Homo sapiens: one gene and its partners. The protein of the gene in region 1 purifies or fractionates together with the protein of each later gene. This does not show direct contact. Each region holds a gene or a part of one and is shown in the gene's direction. Other genes may lie near its edges.

Evidence for each region.
Region 2: the proteins of GNG2 (region 1) and TBC1D24 purify together in Homo sapiens (affinity purification with mass spectrometry; one large-scale study listed by BioGRID and IntAct). This does not show direct contact.
Region 3: the proteins of GNG2 (region 1) and KCTD5 purify together in Homo sapiens (affinity purification with western blotting; 2 studies listed by BioGRID and IntAct, with this or other methods). This does not show direct contact.
Region 4: the proteins of GNG2 (region 1) and SMO fractionate together in Homo sapiens (co-fractionation; one study listed by IntAct). This does not show direct contact.

The regions. Positions count from the first base shown.
Region 1 is NC_000014.9:51,950,321-51,955,636, forward strand, and holds part of GNG2 (guanine nucleotide-binding protein G(I)/G(S)/G(O) subunit gamma-2 precursor), read left to right. Parts: intron 1-329; coding exon of another isoform or gene 330-358; coding exon 359-445; intron 446-5,316. UniProt on the Homo sapiens protein: Guanine nucleotide-binding proteins (G proteins) are involved as a modulator or transducer in various transmembrane signaling systems.
Region 2 is NC_000016.10:2,491,219-2,495,626, forward strand, and holds part of TBC1D24 (TBC1 domain family member 24), read left to right. Parts: intron 1-4,408. UniProt on the Homo sapiens protein: May act as a GTPase-activating protein for Rab family protein(s). Involved in neuronal projections development, probably through a negative modulation of ARF6 function. Involved in the regulation of synaptic vesicle trafficking.
Region 3 is NC_000016.10:2,702,115-2,706,522, forward strand, and holds part of KCTD5 (BTB/POZ domain-containing protein KCTD5), read left to right. Parts: intron 1-238; coding exon 239-364; intron 365-4,408. UniProt on the Homo sapiens protein: Its interaction with CUL3 suggests that it may act as a substrate adapter in some E3 ligase complex. Does not affect the function of Kv channel Kv2.1/KCNB1, Kv1.2/KCNA2, Kv4.2/KCND2 and Kv3.4/KCNC4.
Region 4 is NC_000007.14:129,190,725-129,195,132, forward strand, and holds part of SMO (protein smoothened precursor), read left to right. Parts: intron 1-4,408. UniProt on the Homo sapiens protein: G protein-coupled receptor which associates with the patched protein (PTCH) to transduce hedgehog protein signaling. Binding of sonic hedgehog (SHH) to its receptor patched prevents inhibition of smoothened (SMO) by patched.

The DNA.
Region 1 (5,316 bases):
GTGTCTCTGTAGTATAATACGCTGAGGTGGTCACAGTTAACCAGAAGGATGGGGTTTGAGCCCACTGGGAGAACATTTGGTAATATTCTTTGTGTGTGTGTTTTTTTTCTCTCTAAAGAAGGGATGGGGAAGTAGGGAGAATTGGAAAATCAAACCTCATCCTCTGCTCTGCCTGCCAGTCAGAGGTAATACCGACCAAGGATGGAGAGGGCTGGAGAAGCCAGGCCTGGCTACAGCCACTGCTTTGAGATCCCCTAGTTACGATGAACTTGCACATTTGCTGGCTCATGAATTCTCTGGTACAATCTTCTTTTTGTTTTCTTTTCTAGTGTTTCTGAAAGATCTATCCAGCACTCCGATGGCCAGCAACAACACCGCCAGCATAGCACAAGCCAGGAAGCTGGTAGAGCAGCTTAAGATGGAAGCCAATATCGACAGGATAAAGGTGAGGATGGTCTAACCCCACACTTCATCTAGCGTGAGTCTAAGGCGCATGTCATGTGACCACTCTTTCCTAGAGAGGGATAAAACCAGTAATGACAGGAGAGCATCTTAAAGATTAGGCAGAAGTTCATTTCTAACGTGTCTTTCCCTTCTCCAGCATAAAATAATAGAATGAATTAGATCCTCTTTCCCATGTAGAATTAAAACCTAACAACACAACACAAAAAAAAAAGCAAAACAGGCTCATGGTTAAATTCCAGTGAGAGAAATTAGAGAACACATAAAATATATCAGCGCACTAGTTCCCCTCCCTGTCCTCATGGAAACGTTTTTCTTATTTGGTTTTTAATTTTTTCTGTCCTGGTTCAGGTTCTAAGGCTAAATGTCCGTATTTTGGGTCTAACACTTCTAGTTATCCTTGCACGTTATAAGTTTTTTCTTCTTTATACTTTATTGAATTTTTTTCCTGCAAACACAAAAGTCACACCTTGCCTCCCTAAGAAGTCAAACAACAAAGAGGTTTAATGAAAGTTCATAGTCTATGTGTTTCTTTTTTTCCTCTCCCTCCCCAGACCTAACCTGACAGCTTTGCTGTAAGCTGGGGCTAATTCATCTGGAACCAAGACTTTAAATTCAAACCCTTCGTTGGTAGTTTTCAGATGAAAACCTTGGCCAATATGCTGTCGTTATTAATAGATAGCTATGGCACGGTGGCAAAGTAAATTTCTGTTAACCATCAAAACTTTACTGCCCCAGAAGTAAAATGCCTTACCCAAGAATTCTATGAAATGCAGCTCAGACACATATCTCATTGTACTAAGCTAAAACTACAACCTTCTTCCAAATGCCCTTTTAAAACTAGAATATTTTTCCTATTTTCTCCATACCTAATTCAGCACCTGGGCAATCCAGCTGTCCTTTGGAGTCTGACAGGGTCAATAAAATTTGGCTCATGGGCCAAAGCCAGCCCACTGCCTATGTTTATAAAGAAAGTTTTATTAGAACACACTCATTTACATATTGTCTATGGCTGCTTTCACTCTAAAACAGCAGAGTAGGGTGGTTGTAACAGAGACCATATGGCCCACAAAGCTAAAATATTTATTCTCTGGTGTTTCACAGGAAGTTCACTGACCCCTGGTCTACAGCGATGGTTCTCAGCTCATCTGTGCGTTCCCAACACCCAGAGAGCTCTATAAAAGGACCAATTACCGAACCACACCCAAACCAATTAAATTAGAATCTCCTGGGGTATGATTCAGGCATCAGTATTTTTTAAAAAGAATTTTTCAGTTCATTCCGATGTATAGCCAAGGTTGAGAACCACTGTCCTATGGGAAGGAGTTTACTTCTGCTAAGTCTCATCAGGTATGTGCTAGAGAGTGAAGAGAGAGCTCTTCTTTCTCTACAAGTAAGATGAGCAAATACCCATGGACATTTTCCCATTATCCTAAATCTCCTTTGTAAAATTTGATGCCTAGTAATGGACCACAGGATTTAATCAGCTCCTGCTCTTCTTTCAACAGCCTTAATTCTTCTTCTTTCTTCATGACTGAGATCACTAAAGCGACCTTACCGTGCTCCTTTGCCATCTTCCTCTTCTCCTCTTTTCTTGCTTCTTCTTTTTCACTCTCTTGCTGAAAAAGCACAAAGCAACAGGTGGGCACAATACCTGCTGAGAGAAGTAAGGTGGCCCATGGATTGTCAAATCAGAAAGGGTCATTCAGTTCTTTTTGAGGGAGAGGAGGTTCTGCCCATGGGCCTTCTGGAAAATACCACTTTGACTTTTGAGGTGGTCCAACTATGATAAAAGTCTGTGAAGCTTTACTGTGGTTGATGTTTTCTGTTAATATTCAGCATCCCCAGTTACTGTTCCTGAAGGAGGATATGATGTGCTCATGGGTGATGAAAACTGACAGCAGAAGAAAGATAATAGAAATAGAGCTTTTCAGAAATAGTTTAGACTTTTATCATCCCTCACCTGAATTACTGACTGCAAGGGGCTCCTATTTGCTGTCTGCAATTCCATCTCAATACATCTCCATCCCGCCATCAATTACCTTCCATATTCCTTCCAAATATAATGTTCTAAAAGAAAATCTAATTACATTCCTCTTTATTGAAAATCAGCTCATGATTCCCCATCACCAGTAAAATAAAATTCAGGCCCTTTAGCAGTGTATACAAAGTTCCTGTGACCCCTGTCATCTCTTCAGCTTCATTCCTGCTCTCTTTTCTGCATGCCATATAGAACAACTTTTAATTCTTTTGATGGGAATTTCAAATGCCTAGAACATCCAGTCTCCTTTGCCCCTCTACCTTGCTGCTTTACTTACCTTACTTTACTTAACACTTGACTGCATTGACTCATTAAAGATTCAGATCAAATTATTAGGTCCTTTAAAAAGTTTTCCTAGACCCGCATCATAAGGTTGGATTTTTGCTGTTTGTTCAGTTGTTCATTCATTTACTTATATAATAAATACTTTACTGAGAGCTTTCTAAATTGCAAGGGCTTGTTAGGTTCTAAAGAGATGGAGATAGACAAAAACATGATTCTTGCTCTCAAAAATCCCTGACCTAGTTGAAGACTACAAAAAAATTGAACAAGGCCTATTATTGACGCAAACAAGATATCCAAGAAGCATAGTTACCAAATGTGATCAGAAAGAAGCCAATACCACACTCTGATTGCCCTTTGAAGAGACACAAATAAATCAATACTAAAAAAGAAGCAAAGCATGAACCTGATAAACTGGGTGTGAGTAGTTGCCTTCCTAGGTGATCTTCACATTCAAATCTCTGAATCCCACTTGATGTCATTGGACCTTACATTGTTAGAAATACAGCAGCATCCTGTATTTCAGCATTTGTTCTGTACCTCAGAGCCAGGCAGGCTTGCTGTGGTGAAGTGACAGATTATTTTTAGTTGAGCAGTTGGATAAAGTGTTGACTGTGTTGACACGGTTGTCAGCTAGCTGGTTTAGGGCTTGGTTATCTGCCTTTAGAAGTCTTTTCAAGGCTTTTGAGCATTCAGGCTTCCCCACCTACTTTCCATACATGATCCTTCAGCAGGAAGGGGCTTCTCTCTGAAGATCCCAGGCTTGTGATTTTCCAGTGAGAGTAGTGACCTCTTCAAGCTATAAAGGATAGAAATGGCTTTATATACGTCTGGCAGAACCTACTGCAACTGAGGTGGCAAAGAATAGGACTCTTAAGAGGAGGATTTGGGGACACAGCTGGAATTGAAGTTGTTGAGGGTCCCTTAAGCAGGCGGTGGCCTTATCCCTCATGTGACCCCCAGAATAAATTATGCTGCATAGAGTAGCCCTACTCTATGAATAACATAGTTACATGAATAGCATGTTTGTTTTTTAAGCCTTCTTGTTTTCTATCCCTTTACATCACAGACCCTGGGAGATTTGGGCTAAGTGAACCAATTATCTGTTCATAAGCCTCGGGCATATATAAATTATACTCTCAGCCTCTTTGTATTTCTTTGTTAGGATTTCATTCAAGGACAGAGGGTAAAGAGAAATAAAAGGAAATTGGGAAGAGAGTTAGGGGAAGGGGGAGAGAGGGGCTGTGGACTGTGACACCTGGATGAATGAAACAGCAATAGACTCACACTAACACTGACCAAAGACAAAATGAAAGAAACCTTGTCCTTAGAGCACAAGAGGAGGGAACATGCACAAAAGTAAAGGACAGCAGGGCTTCAGTAAATCTGTTTATTCATCATTGTATTAGGACTCTTTGAGTTTCTAATAATAGGAATCTCAACCAAGCTAGCTGAAGCAGAAAGAGGTACTGATTATAAAAGATACAGGATGTCTCAATCCAAGAGCAGAAATGTGGCTAGATAGGCAGTGGAAGTGAGAACTGGAAGGCCATTGAGAACTGCGAGTGCTCCGTCACCTGTCTCTGCTCCTCTCTCTGTGTCTGCCTCTTCCTTTTCCTGGGAAGAAGGGATTTTTAGCTGCCAGGTCCATATAGCAGGCACAAGATGGCTGCCCATGGTTCCCAGGATCACAACTCATAGTTCCAGCTCCATGAAAAAAGAGATGGCTTGATTCAATCCTTTTCAGTCTCCATAGCACGTAGTCCTAGAGTGCCATCTCTGTTCCAGCAAGAATGAGCCCTCTCCAGCTTCAATCAACTGACATTCAAATTGAACTCCATTATACAGACATAGCCCCTAGGAATTAACCTGCCCATGTAGAGGAATGGGAATGGGAATGGGAATCATTGTAAGCTGGAAAGATGCTCTTTGGCAGGAGATGCTATTAATATTATGAAAAATAATGTAAATTTAAGAGTAAAAGATATAAGATGCAAGGCAAGAGCATGGGTAAAATGATTGCTTCTTAACTAATTGGCTGCTCCATAAATTGACCCCACAGAAAAATGTCTCATTTCTCCCATATACTCCCAACAGACCTTTCCAAGTGATTCCTTTTATCGTTCTAAAAGTGTGCTATGCAAAGTGTCACCTCTCTGGTTATTCTGGGTTTCTGACTGAGAATACCCTTCCCTCTTATTTCTTTGCCTCTCCCAATCTTATTCCTCCTTTAGGGGTCAGCTCAAGTTCCTACTTGTTCATGAATCTCTTTTTCTATTCTGACCATATTTACTAATCAATTTACTAATTAGTTTCATCTTCATCAAATAAATTTTTCCACCTAGACTACATAGTCCTTTTCAAAGACCATGTTGTCTACTTGTTTGCATCTTTCATGGTACTGGGGTACACAAGCATTTTGTAAAAGCTTTTTTCAGTAGACAGCTTTAAATTTGTGTATTAAGAGTGTCATATAACAAAACATTACTATATTCCCCATGACATTCCCAGTTACATTTATGGACTTGGAG
Region 2 (4,408 bases), on another chromosome or scaffold:
AATTTAAACAGAACTCTACATTTTTACTCCCTAATTTTGGTACTATTTGACTTTTTGTGATTTTTGCATTCAAATATCACCAGCGTAATGAAAGACTTTTTTTTTAACCTAAGGAAACCAATCTGGACCTCGTTTTTATTTATGTATTTATTTTTTATTTTTGTTTTCATTTTATTTTTTTTTTCAGACAGGGTCTTGCTCTGTCACCCAGGCTGGATGGAGTTCAGTGGTACAATCAGGTCCCACTGCAGCCTTGACCTCCTGGGCTCTGGTGATCCTCCCACCTTAACCTCCTGAGTAGCTGGGACTACAGGTATGCGCCACCACGCCTGGCTAATTTTTTTTTTTTTTTTTGAGATGGAGTCTCACTCTGTCGTCCAGTCTAGAGTGCAGTGGCTCCATCTTGGCTCACTGCAACCTCTGCCTGCCGGGTTCAAGCGATTCTCCTGCCTCAGCCTCCCACGTAGCTGGGACTACAGGCATGTGCCACCACACCCAGCTAATTTTTTGTATTTTTAGTAGAGACGGGGTTTTACCTGCTGGCCAGGCTGGTCTCAAACTCCTAACCCTGTGATCCACCTGCCTCGGCCTCCCAAAGTGCTGGGATTACAGGCATGAGCCACCGTGCTTGGCCCGCCTGGCTAATTTTGGTATTTTTTTGTAGAGATGGGGTTTTGCCATGTTGTGTGGGCTAGTCTTGAACTCCTGGGCTTGGCGTCCAAAGGTCGTCCCCGTTCAGCCTCCCAAATAGCTGGGATTACAGGTGCATGCCACCAGGCCTGGCCATTTTTTTTTATTTTTGGTAGAGATGAGGTCTCATTATGTTGCCCAGGCTGGTCTTGAACTCCTGGGCTGAAGTGATCCTCCTGCCTGAGCCTCCCAAAGTGCTGGGATTACAGATGTGAGCCCCTTTGCTGGCCTGGACCTGGTTTTTATAGATGCCTTAAGTGGGTTGTTGCCTTGTGTGCACAGCCCCAGAAATGTCGTGCGCTCTTTTTGAGTGAGGGTTTGGGGAACAAGAAAGAATCCAAGGGCTCCCTCGGGTCTTTTGCACACATCCTTGGCTCGGGGGTCCCTGTGAGTCCAGCACGTCGCCGGACCATTCGCGGCAGTAAACACAACTTGGGATCTGCATCTCCCTAAGGGAACTTCGCAAGGTGCACCCACAGCTTTTACTGTTTCCAGTTTAATATTCAACCTGAATCTGGGGCCAGCCGAGTGGAGGCTGGTGCTGCTCTGCCCAGCTCCTGTTCTGTTTAGAAACATGTTTATTGCCTTAAGAAGGAGCCAGTTCTTTCACCCAAACAGGATGGGCCTGGAGTTCCTCCAGAGGCTAGTGGGCCCATAGCAGGGAAGGAGGGATGTAAGCTGTGGATAACCGACCGACACGTGTAAGATTGTGCAGTGTGACCCAGGCGTGGCTGTGCGCATGTGAGTGGACCTGTCGGCCTGACCTTCAGGACCAGGGAAAGGGGGAGCCCTCACTGCCTTCCCTCCCAGGACGAAGCAAACCAATCAATGGTCTTAAGGGTTTCTTTTCTTCTGAGGCCTAGTCCTGCTGTGGGCAAGGTTTTTCCAGTGGGATACATTAAAATCAACTTCGGTGGCTCACGCTTCTAATCTCAGCACTTTGGGAGGCTGAGGCGGGCGGATCACCTGAGGTCGGGAGTTCGAGACCAGCCTGACCAACATGGACAATCCCTGTCTCTACTAAAAATACAAAATTAGCCGGGCGTGGTGGCACATGCCTGTAATCCCAGCTACTTGGGAGGCTGAGGCAGGGGAATCGCTTGAACCCAGGGAGGCGGAGGTTGCAGTGAGCTGAGATTACGCCACTGCACTCCAGCCTGGACGACAGTGCGGCACTCTGTCTCAAAAAAATAAATAAATAAAAAATGGCTAAAATGGTAAATTTTTTGTTTGTTTGTTTGTTTGTTTGAGACAGAGTCTTGCTCTGTCGCCTGGGCTGGAGTGCAGTGGCACAATCTCGGCTCACTGCAATCTCCGCCTCCCAGGTTCACGTCATTCTCCTGCCTCAGCCTCCCGAGTAGCTGGTACTACAGGCTCCCGCAACCACGCCCGGCTAGTTTTTTTGTATTTTTAGTAGAGACAGGGTTTCACTGTGTTAGCCAGGATGGTCTCGATCTCCTGACCTCGTGATCCACCCGCCTCGGCCTCCCAAAGTGCTGGGATTACAGGCGTGAGCCACCGCGTCCGGCCTAACATGGTAAATTTTATGCTATGTGTATTTTACCACACACACAAAAACACGTGTCGAGGTGTTTTCCCAAGACAGTGTCTCGCAGACGTACGTTTTACACTATGATTTTTACTTTTCAAGAACTGTTTTAAAGCAGTATTTGCCTTATAATAGGTAGGTGAATGTTCTAGCTGCAAGAGAAACCGGAGTGGTCTGGTCACTCAACCAAAACCTGCTGAAGCAGACCCCTGGGGCACACTGGGAACTTCTACCATCCCAGGTGGAAAGGTTAGTCTGATGTGCGTAAGCAAACCTTGCACTTCTGTGCGCAGGACGGTATCCTTGGGCCAGGGCAGCCACCTGTTGTCCAGAATCCCACAGGGCACGTCTTACCCACTCCTTTTATGTTTGCCTGAGCCCAGGGGTTGCTGTTCTTGGAGAAACACCAACCACCCCCACTTGACTTCTGGCCCATTCGGATCCAGAAATGTGCAGTTTTAAAGCTGCAGCACCTTCCATTTAGGTCCCAGCTCTCCCTCTGGAAAATGCCTGCTCCTCACCAGAGATTCCTCCCTGGAGCACCTGCCTGAAGCATAGCTTTCAAGCTGGTGGTTTTAGAAAGTTAAGAGCCGGCTTCAGAATTCCGACAGGGTGGGATAGCATAGGCTGTGACTTTCTTAGCACACACAGCTGGTTAAAGAGAACTGGGAACGGGCTGGGCGTGGTGGCTCACGCCTGTAATCCCAACACTTTGGGAGGCCGAGGTGGGTGGATCACGAGATCAGGAGTTCGAGACCAGCCTGGCCAACATGGTGAAACCCCATCTCTACTAAAAATACAAAAACTGGCTGGGTGTGGTGGCGGGTGCCTGTAGTCCCAGCTACTCAGGAGGCTGAGGCAGGAGAATCACTTGAGCCCGGGAGGCGGAAGTTGCAGTGAGCCGAGATTACGCCACTGCACTCCAGCCCGTGCGACAGTGCAAGACTCTGTCTCAAAAAAAAAAAAAAAGGGAGAACTAGAACGAAGCATCTCTTTGCTCAAAGTGATCTTCTCAACTGGGGGTTCCTTTTCAGAAGGCCCCCAGGGTGCAGGGTGGTGTTTAGGAGCCTGGAGTGGACCATGCTCGAGTGGAAAGGTGTTTTCAGCAGGGTCAGCCTCTTTTTTTGGTAGAGATGGGGTCTCACCATGTTGCCCAGGCTGGTCTTGAACTCCTGGCCTCAACTAGTCCTCCCACCTTGGCCTCCTGAGTAGCTGAGATTATAGATATGAGCCACTGTGCCCAGCCAAGGGCCAAGCTCTTGAAGCCCTTCTGGGAACTCTATCTCTAGCCTCTCATTACTCAGAATCTGTGTGATGTATTCCAGTAACTTCATAAGTTCTGTGAAAAGAAGGTATACTCCAAAGTTTGTAACGGCTTCTCAAAAGTCACTTATCTTAAGTGGAAGCCCTTCTAATACTTACACAAAGATTAAGGCAAATAATGTGGCTGCGCAACGTGACTCTCACTCGTAATTCCAGCATGGTGGGAAGATCACTTGAGGCCTGCGGTTCAAGGCCAACCTGGGTGACAGAACAAGACCCCATCACACACACACACACACACACACACACACACAAAATAAATAATAATAATAATAATAAACAAAAAAACAGGCCAGGAGCACTGGCTCACACTTGTAATCCCAGCACTTTGGGAGGCTGTGGTGGGTGGATTGCTTGAGATCAGGAGTTTAAGACCAGTCTGGGTAACATGGCAAAATCTCGTCTCTACTAAAAAGAGAAAAAATTAGCTGGGCGTGGTGGCGCCTAACTGTAGTCTCAGCTATAGCTGAGGTGGGAGGATCACCTGAGCCCAGGAGGCAGAAGTTGCAGTGTGCCGAGATGGTGCCATTGCACTCTAGCCTGGATGTCAGCACAAGACCTTGTCTCAAACAAAACAAAACAAGGCCGGGCACAGTGGCTCATGCCTGTAATCCCAACATTTTGGGAGGCCAAGACAGGAGGATTGCTTGAGCCCAGGAGTTCAAGACCAGCCTGGAGAGCATAGCGAGACCCTGTCTCTACAAAAAAATAAAAAATTAGGCCAGGGCGGTGGCTCTCGTCTGTAATCCCACACTTTGGGAGGCCAAGGCAGGCACATCACAAGGTCAGGAGTTTGAGACCAGCCTGACCAACATGGTGAAACCCTGTCTCTAGTAAAAATACAAA
Region 3 (4,408 bases), on another chromosome or scaffold:
GGAAAGCTCAGGGTCCTCACAGAGGAAGAGCTCGCCCCATGCCATGCCACGGCGTGGGGTGCCGCCCCGTGTGCTCGTGCAGGTGTTCCGGGGATTTGTTTTCCATCCATTTCCTGAAGCGTCGGCAGTCTTTGCTGTGGCTTTCGCGGTGGCAGGCGCGTCCTGAGGCTGGTCATGTCAGCCTGGCTGGGTCTCTCAGGCTTCACTGGGCTGCGTCTCAGGCTATGTCTCCTTGCAGTTGGTCAGCATCGGCTCCTCTTACAACTATGGGAACGAAGACCAAGCCGAGTTCCTCTGTGTGGTGTCCAAGGAGCTGCACAACACCCCGTACGGTACGGCCAGCGAGCCCAGCGAGAAGGCCAAGGTGAGTGCTGGGCCGGCCCTGGCCTGGGGCAGTCTTGGGTGGGGAAGGCTCTTGCCCTCTCAGACCTTCCTCCTTTTCTGCCATTCTCATCAAGCTCCCGGTGTCCGCCCCTGGTGGCCTTGCTGACTTCTTGGACACACGGTCTCCCGTGGGACAGGTTCTCTCGACACAGGCTCCCAGTAAGCCCCTGCGGCCTCCCAGCCTGCATGCAGAGCTGCTCCTGGAAGGGGCCCCAGGCCTGCTGCAGGGGCCATGCTCTTAGGAATGCCACTGAGGGCTGTGTCTCAGGGGACCCAGGGTCCTCTGTTCCCCGGGCCCAGCCTCTGCTGTGTGAGTGAGGACTTGGGATGCTGAGGCCTGGCTGTCATAGGGGTCTGGGCCATCCCTGAGTGCAGGGACATGGGGGTCCAGTTGTCGTGGTGGGGGTCTGGGCCATCCCTGAGTGCAGGGGTGGGTACCCTGGCTCAGCCACTACGTGGGCCTCATCTTTGTCGAGAGGAGGGTGTCCTGCAGGCCCTGGGATTCTCAGGCTGCACAGAGTAGGCCCTTTGCGGCACCCAGCCTGGCAGCACCGGCGCAGACTCTGCGGGGGCTCAGGCCCTTCTGTTTTCTGCGGGGCAGGCAGCTGGGGTGAAATGCAGGGACCCCTGCCTCGTTTGCTTTCAGGTTGGCCCTGTGGCCCTGCCCACAGGTGACCCATTCTGGTGGCATTTCCTCTAAGCACGTTCTTAAGGTTGAGGCTCCAAGATGGACAAATGCGTCCATCCAAGCAGAATCTGACCTTGGCCTGGGCCAGCTGCACCTGGCAGGACTCCCGGACCTCAGAGCCAGGTGGTGGCTGGAGAGCTCTTGGCTGGGGTCTGCGTGGGTCTGGGAGAGCCTGGGTGGTGGGGCGGGCTCTGTGGGGAGCCAGCCTGGGGCGAAGGCTCGGGGCATTGGCAAAGGGTGTTGAGTGGGTGCCATGAGAGGCCAGAACCGGAAGGCTTTTAACTGGTGGCATTAAACCAGGGACACCTGGGCAACCGCAGACTCTTGGCTGGGGGCCTCTGGCCGGCCACCAGCAGCCCAGGACTGTCCCCGTGAGCCTCTCCGAGTAGGCCTTTGGAGGTATGCCCTTGGGAACAGAGGGGTGGGGCCGCCAAGCATGTCTCTCGGAGGCCTGCGGCCAGCTCACGGCAGCCTTTCCACCTCAGGCGACTGTCCTGGCCCAGAGCCTCCCTCGCTGGCCACCCGTTGTGCTCTTGCTGTGGGCAGAGGCCAGTCCTGCTCCACTGCCGTTCCTCGAGGCCGAGGCAGTGTAGGCTGGGGCAGGCCCTGGTGTGGGACAGCCGGGGTGGAAGCTGGGGTTCCACCGCCAGGCTCGGAGATGCTCTTCCATTTGAGTCTCGGATCTAGGAGGCGACCCCTGGCTCCCTGAGAGCCCCAGCTCAGTCACAAGGAGGCACTTCTCTTCCTCTTGGAGCAATCGTAGGGCTCTTTTCTAAATGGTTTTATTTTTAGAAGTTTTTTATTTCTGAGCTGAGTTTTTATAACCAAGCTCCCCTGGGCTCCTATCCCTCAGGTGGCTTGGCAGCTGCAGAAAGGACACGCTCTGTACTGTGAGGAAGCTCCAGGCATGACCCCAAATCCCTTTGTGGTTGAGAATGTGGCCCTATTTCATTTTCCAAAAATACCTGCTCTGAAGTGGGGCAGCTATGGCGGCTTCTTGATGGGGGTGGTGTCAGCAGTGCCCCAGGAGGCAGAGCTCAGGCCAGAGCCTCAGGAGGCCGTGGGGGATTGCGGGGGCCAGAGCTGGAGGACCGTGATGGGGGCACCCCTGGCTGGGCTGCGCAGGGCCGCATGGGCTGTGGGCCCTCGTCGCTGGTGTCCCTGCAGCATGTGTGGCCTGGCCCTGCTGGGCAGCTGTCCCCCACTTCAGTCAGCGGCGGCGGGAGAGCCTGGGTGGTGGGGCGGGAGGGGTTGCACCTGTAGCAAGTGAAGGCGGTCCACACATGAGCACACCTGCTTCCCACGCCAGTCCCTCAAGAACTTGCTAGAAGGACTCGCAGAGCTCACTGAGAGCGCTTAGACTCAAGGCCGCCATTTATTCCCAAGGAACAGAGAGAGACAGGCTCAGATCAGCAAGGGCGGGCACCTGGGCAGAGGCCGGGGTCTCCCAGTGCCTGGGCGGCTGAGGAGGGGGTTCCTTGGTGGTGTTGGGGCTCCATTGCGTAGCCATGCTCGATGGGTGCATCCACCGCCTGCCCCCGTGGCTGATCCCTCCTGTGACCCAGGGCCCCACCCTCCCTCCTGCAGCAGTGGGGCCAATGCAGTGGGGTCCACAGAGCCCACGCAGCAGAGGCCCTCCTATCAGGCCGAGATCTGTGGGCTAGCGCCGCCTGCCAGGAGTGGGGCCAGAGGCCAGGCGCCTCTGGACAGGGTTCAGCCCCTCAGCACATGGTGGGACAGGACCAGCCCCGGATCGCAAGATGCAGCCGCCTCACACGTGGAGGTTTCCACCTCTGAGATGTGGCAGAGCCCCTGAGCCTGTGTGTCCCCTCGTGGCGTGGCCTCACTGGAAGGTCACCGGGCGTGGGGGTTTGGGCCCGGGGCACCCGCCCACCCGCACTGTCCTGACAGCCTGTCTTCTCCCCCACTGCGCGCTGCACGCCGCCAGAGTGACGACGAGGACCAGGGGCACCCAGGGAGTGGCTCAGATTAAGTGTGAATGTCATGGTGAGCTCCGTGGCCTCCTTGACCCCATGGCCCCAGCTGACCCTTGCCACAGACCCTCCCTGTGTGTCTGTCCCTGCCTGTAGTTGACGAGAGCCGTCCGCACTCCATGCCAGCTGTAGATCCTCAGTAGCACTGTCTTGGTGGTGGGGCTGTTGCTGTGAGGCAGATGCCCAGGGGCAGTGTTGGGGCGTTTGTTGGGATGACTGGAGGGTGCCCGTGCCAGGCCAGGCTGTGGACATCAGTGGTCGTGAACCCAAGAGCCCCTCCTGGGGGCTGGGCAGGGAGTGCCACTCGTGCCGCCAGCCCTAGTGGGTGACCTTCCTGTCTGGCTTAGGCCACAGGCTCAGGGCCAAGGGGTCAGGACCAGTGCGGCAGACAGCAGACCCCTATCTCAGCTGCCAAATCCTGCGGCATCCCTGATGCGCTTAAGCCTCCCAGGCCAGCCGTGTCCTGCAAGCCCCTCAGCCACCCGGGCCTGCCTGCCTGTGGGGGTGTCTGGCCATGGGGTACAGCCTCAAGGGCCCCCTGGTTGGTGTCTGCAGTTGGACCTTCCTGTGGAAGATGGCCTAGGGAGACAGTGTGTCCAGAAAAGATGGGTCTCACCCCAGGCTCTGTCTAGAGTAGCCCGTGCTGCTCCCGGCCTTGGGAGGGCGAAGGACAGCACTTTGGCTGCAGGTCTCCAGGGTGTCTCCTGCCCTCATCAGGAGGGAGCTGTTGGGGCTCCCGGATGCTCAGATGCCACACTGCTCCTGGCCTGTCCGCTGCGCTACTTAGTTTTACACAGGGCTGGTGGGGGCTTGGGGGCTGCACTGTCTCCCCAAGTCAACTCCAGACATCCCAGTAAACTTGGGAATCACCCTGGCCCAGGGAGGGACGTGCTGCCCCTCGCACAGGGGGATGGGCTCCTCCGAGGCACTGGAGAGTGAGTGGGAGCCTCGAGCTAGAAGTGGTCCAGGGCACTGAGCCTGGGGGGCACCCGCCTGGGAACGGCAGAGCTGTTGGGGGGTGGAGTATTGGAGTCAGGCTGAGCAGCTCAGGGGACGTGGCCTCCAGGAGCCTTCGGAACAAGCCTGGGGTGGCATGCACCTCTCACCACTGCCCTCTCTCCGGTCAGTGCGGCATGGCAGTGACCTCTGGGAGGCTGTGCCCGGCGAGGGCGTGGGCGTTGCTGCCCTACCTGGTGTTGGGCAGCCCTCACGTGACACATGGAGACAGCTGTTGTGGGCCACGCACAGTGAGGCTGGCTGGCTCCGAAGCTCTCTGCTCGGGAGCGTGGGGTGATTTCCCCTCCACCTGGTCTCTGGAGCTGCCATGGCTCATTTTGGGAGT
Region 4 (4,408 bases), on another chromosome or scaffold:
GCATCCTTTTTGGGGATCAGGTTCTAAAGTCAGCACAGCACATTAGACAGAAATCATGTGTAAACAACAGTGGCTTTGAAAACTCTGCAGATTACCATAGTGTAAGGTGGATGTGGTTTTGCATATACACTTCTTTTACGATGTTTGCATACATGTGTTACATGTATACTCATATATAAGAATGGGTATACATAGAAGATAAAATAATTGTAATTTTAAAGTTACATTCATGCAAAAGACTGAAATAATAATAATAATAATAAAAAGAACACCAAAGTGAGATTAAGCAAGATTGCTTTGAGCACCACCCAAAATGAGACTTGAGTTTAGGAGCCAGCTGTGTGGAAAGTCCAAATCTCTCAGCACTAGAATCTCACCCAGTTCTGAGTTGCTCATGCTGTCAGAGGATAATCTTTCTGTCCCTCTCTTTATTGATTGTGCAAGGACCCATGGTTTAATTTTCCCAAGTTAAATGCATGTTTGATGTTGCCTCTGTGTAGTTACCATCAGATCAAGGAGGAAGGGTATGAACCTCTTTCCAGCCCATACTCTTGAGAGCAGCTGCTGAGCAGACAGAAGTAGTTTAAGCTGGAACATGTATCAATTAGTACCATCTGCAGGTTGTGCAGGTTGAAATCTCACTATCTGTGCCTTTTGGCAGGGCAGGGTCCTACAGAGATGCCAGCACTGAGCCCAGCACCGTTAGTTCCATTAGTTCACTATGAGTTCTTCTCTGCCACCAACCACCATCCCTCAGCTCATTCCTGTTTCCATATGTGTTCTGGTTGCACTCTTTCTGCTTGGGACTTGCAAGTAGGGCAGAAGCAGGTGTTGGCTTGAGCTGGGTAATGAGTAGGTAGAGTGAACCCAAGCCTCGTGTGAGAATCACAGCCAGGTCAGCTGGTAGCCTCTGGCAAGTGATTTATCATGTCCCGAGTTAATGATCTTGATTTTGCATTAGACAGGGTCAGTGTTACCTGGCTCTTAGGGGTGTTTTTGTGGGTGAAGGATGAAGGTGATCTAGGTTGTCTTCATCGGTAAACTCTTGAATGTAGGAACTGGGTCTTCACTTTTTTTCAAAGCCTGTGAGTACTGAGTACACAGCCATGCTTCTATTCATGCATTCAGTTATGTATTGAATGTTTGCTGTATGTCACATGCTGCGCATGTAAGGATGAAGAATACAGATATGATCCTCTGTCATCAAGAAGACAGGCTGGACATGGTGCTCACACCTGTGATCTCAGCACTTTGGGAGGCCGAGGCGGGAAGATTGCTCAATACCAGGAGTTTAAGACCAGCCTGAGACCTTGCCTCTAAAAAAAAAAAAGGAAGACAGATAATTCAACAGGCTTTGGAAATACCTGTGAAAGGTACTGTGGCATTTTAGGGTACTGAAAAAGCATAAAGGACCCAAGGAACATCCCAGAAGAACTGGCATTTAACCCATAACTTGACACATAAGCAGGAATTGCCTGGCCGAGGGAGAGTTGAGGTTTGAAGGGATAGGAAGAGGAAATAGCATGTACAAAGGTGTAGAGGTAGGAGGGCTTGGTGCTTTGAAAGAAAGTATAAGAGTTGCAGTAGAACTGGATCAAAGCGTGTGAGGGGTGGAATTGTGAGAGATAAGACCTAAAGAATTAGAAAATAAAGGGATTTATACCTCATATTAAGTTTGGATGTTATCCAGGGGATGATAAGGAGCCATTGAAAGATTTTAAGCAAGGGAGAGATGTAATTGTCTTTGCATTTTAGCTGGATCTCTTTGGGTATGGTGTGAAGAAGCCATAGGAGCAGGGAAAGCCTGGAGCCTGGCTTCTTGACCAGGGGATGTTGAAGTAGCCCAAGTAAGAGACGATGGCGGTTGGGACTGGGTAGCAGGACAGAGGGAGTGGGCAGATCCCACTAACTTTCAGAGGTAGTGCTCATAGGGCACTGATGAGTTAGATGTGGAGCCTCAGTGAGCAGGAGGCCTCGGGTTTCAGGCTTGGATGGAAGGTGGTGCCATTCCCTTTCACTAAGATAGAGAATGCTAGAGGAAGAAGAAGTTTAGGCAGGAGGTGTGGCTTTGATTTTGGCCGTGTGAATTAGAGATGCTCATTGGACATCTATGTGGAGATTCTCAGCAGATCTGGAAATAGGAATTGCTGGAGAGAGGTGGCCACTGTGTGCTTCCTTGGCCCTGACTACTGAGGCTTTGGAAGGATGCCATTGACTGAGGAAGTTTATAGCTCAGGTTGGTCCAATTTCTAGGTCTGTATAGACCTCAGGTCTTTCCTCTGTCTTTCATCTCTCTGGCCTCAGGCTTCTTCAGTCACTTAGCATCTCTCCCCTTTACAGCTGGAAATGCCTCCTCCCGGGCATTCCAAGCTGACCAGACAAACATAATGTCCAGGCCGTGGTCCACCTTAGGCCAAACCTGGTTTAGTAAGTGGGGCAAAAAAGCAGAGAGGCCTGCAGCTGGCAGTGGCGATAGGTCCCTGAGAGCCAGCACGTAGCCTCCTTAACCACTGCTGTGCTCTGTGTGGTACATAAGTGTGTGGCCCTGTCACCTTGCCCACTTGCAGGTAAGTAGGAGAGAGACAAAGGCTGGGAGGAATTTCTTGTTTGCCTCTCACACATTGAATTGAGGGCTGAGAGGAGGAATGTTTTTGGTGATGGTGGGTTATTTTCAGGGACGGATCAGGAAGAATTTCCTTAGAGCTATTTCCAAACTTGGCTGGTAATCAGAGTCAGTTAAAAAGATATATATGGCCGGGCGCGGTGGCTCACGCCTGCAATCCCAGCACTTTGGGAGGCCGAGGTGGGCGGATCACGAGGTCAGGAGATCGAGACCATCCCGGCAAACAGGGTGAAACCCCGTCTCTACTAAAAATACAAAAAAATTAGTTGGGCATGGTGGCGGGTGCCTGTAGTCCCAGCTGCTTGGGAGGCTGAGGCAGGAGAATGGCGGGAACCCGGGAGGCAGAGCTTGCAGTAAGCCGAGATCACGCCACTGCACTCCAGCCTGGGCGACAGACCGAGACTCCATCTCAAAAAAAAAAAAAAAAAAAAAAAAAAAATATATATATATATATATATATATATATATATGTATAGGCTGGGTGCAGTGGCTCACACCTGTAATCTTAGCACTTTGGGAGGTTGAGGCAGGAGGATTTCTTGAAGCCAGGAGTTCGAGACCAGCCTGGGCAACAAAGTGAGACCCCATCTCTAAAAAAAAAAATTAGCCGGGCATGTTGGCACACACCTGTGGTCCCAGCTACACTGGAGGCTGAGGCAAAAGGATCGCTTGAACCCAAGAGGTTGAGGCTGCAGTGAGCCATCCTCACACCACTGCCCTCCAGACTGGGCAACAGAGCAAGACCCTGTCTCAAAAATACATACATACATATAGATATGTGTGTATGTATACACACACACACATATATGTATAGTGAAAATGTAAAATACAGAAAAACATACATGGACCTAAGTCTTTTTTAAAAAAAAATTATCTTTAATTAATTATTTGAGAAATGGGGTCTTGCTGTGTTGCCCAGGCTGGAGTGCAGTGGCTATTCAGAGGCTCACTCATTGTGCGCATGGTGCTTATGGTGCCTGGAATAGCTGGCACTACAGGCATGTGTTCTGTGCCAGCTCAAGTCTTCAATTTTGCTTCAGATCTTTAACTTTTTAATTGTGAAATATAACTGTATGCAGAAAACTGCATAAAACACAAAGGTACTGAATAACAAATAATTATAAAGTGACATCTGGGTCAATAACTAGACCACAGTCAGACCCCTGAAGCTCCCTCTGTGTCTTGTCTAGTCACATCCCCCTCCCCTTGCTCAAGAGGTTTTCAGTAATCACATCCTTTTTTTCTCTATGGTTTTACCTCCTAGTTTTGGAATCCATAAGCAGTATATTTCAGCTTTGCATGTTTTTGAACTCTGTTCAAATGGAATTTGTACAAAATAATATGCTGTGCATATTATTTCTTGCTTCTTTTACTTTATATCATTATGTAAGATTCATCCATGTTATTGCAGCTTATTTCTTTTTTGCTTGTTTATTTGTTTGTTTTTGTTTTTTTGAGACAGTCTCACTCTGTCACCTAGGCTAGAGTGCAGTGGCGCGATCTCGGCTCACTACACCTCCACCTCCTGGGTTCAAACGATTCTCCTGCCTCCGCCTCCCAGGTAGCTGGGACCATAGGTGCACGCCACCAGGCCTGGCTAATTTTTGTATTTTTTAGTAGAGACAGGGTTTTGCCATGTTGGTCAGGCTGGCCTCAAACTCCTGACTTCAGGTGAGCCACCCGCCTCATACTGCAGCTTATTTCTTCATTGCTGAATAATATTCCATTATATGAGTATACCCCCAGTTGTTTACCCATTTTATTGTCATCTCAAGTTTTTGCCCA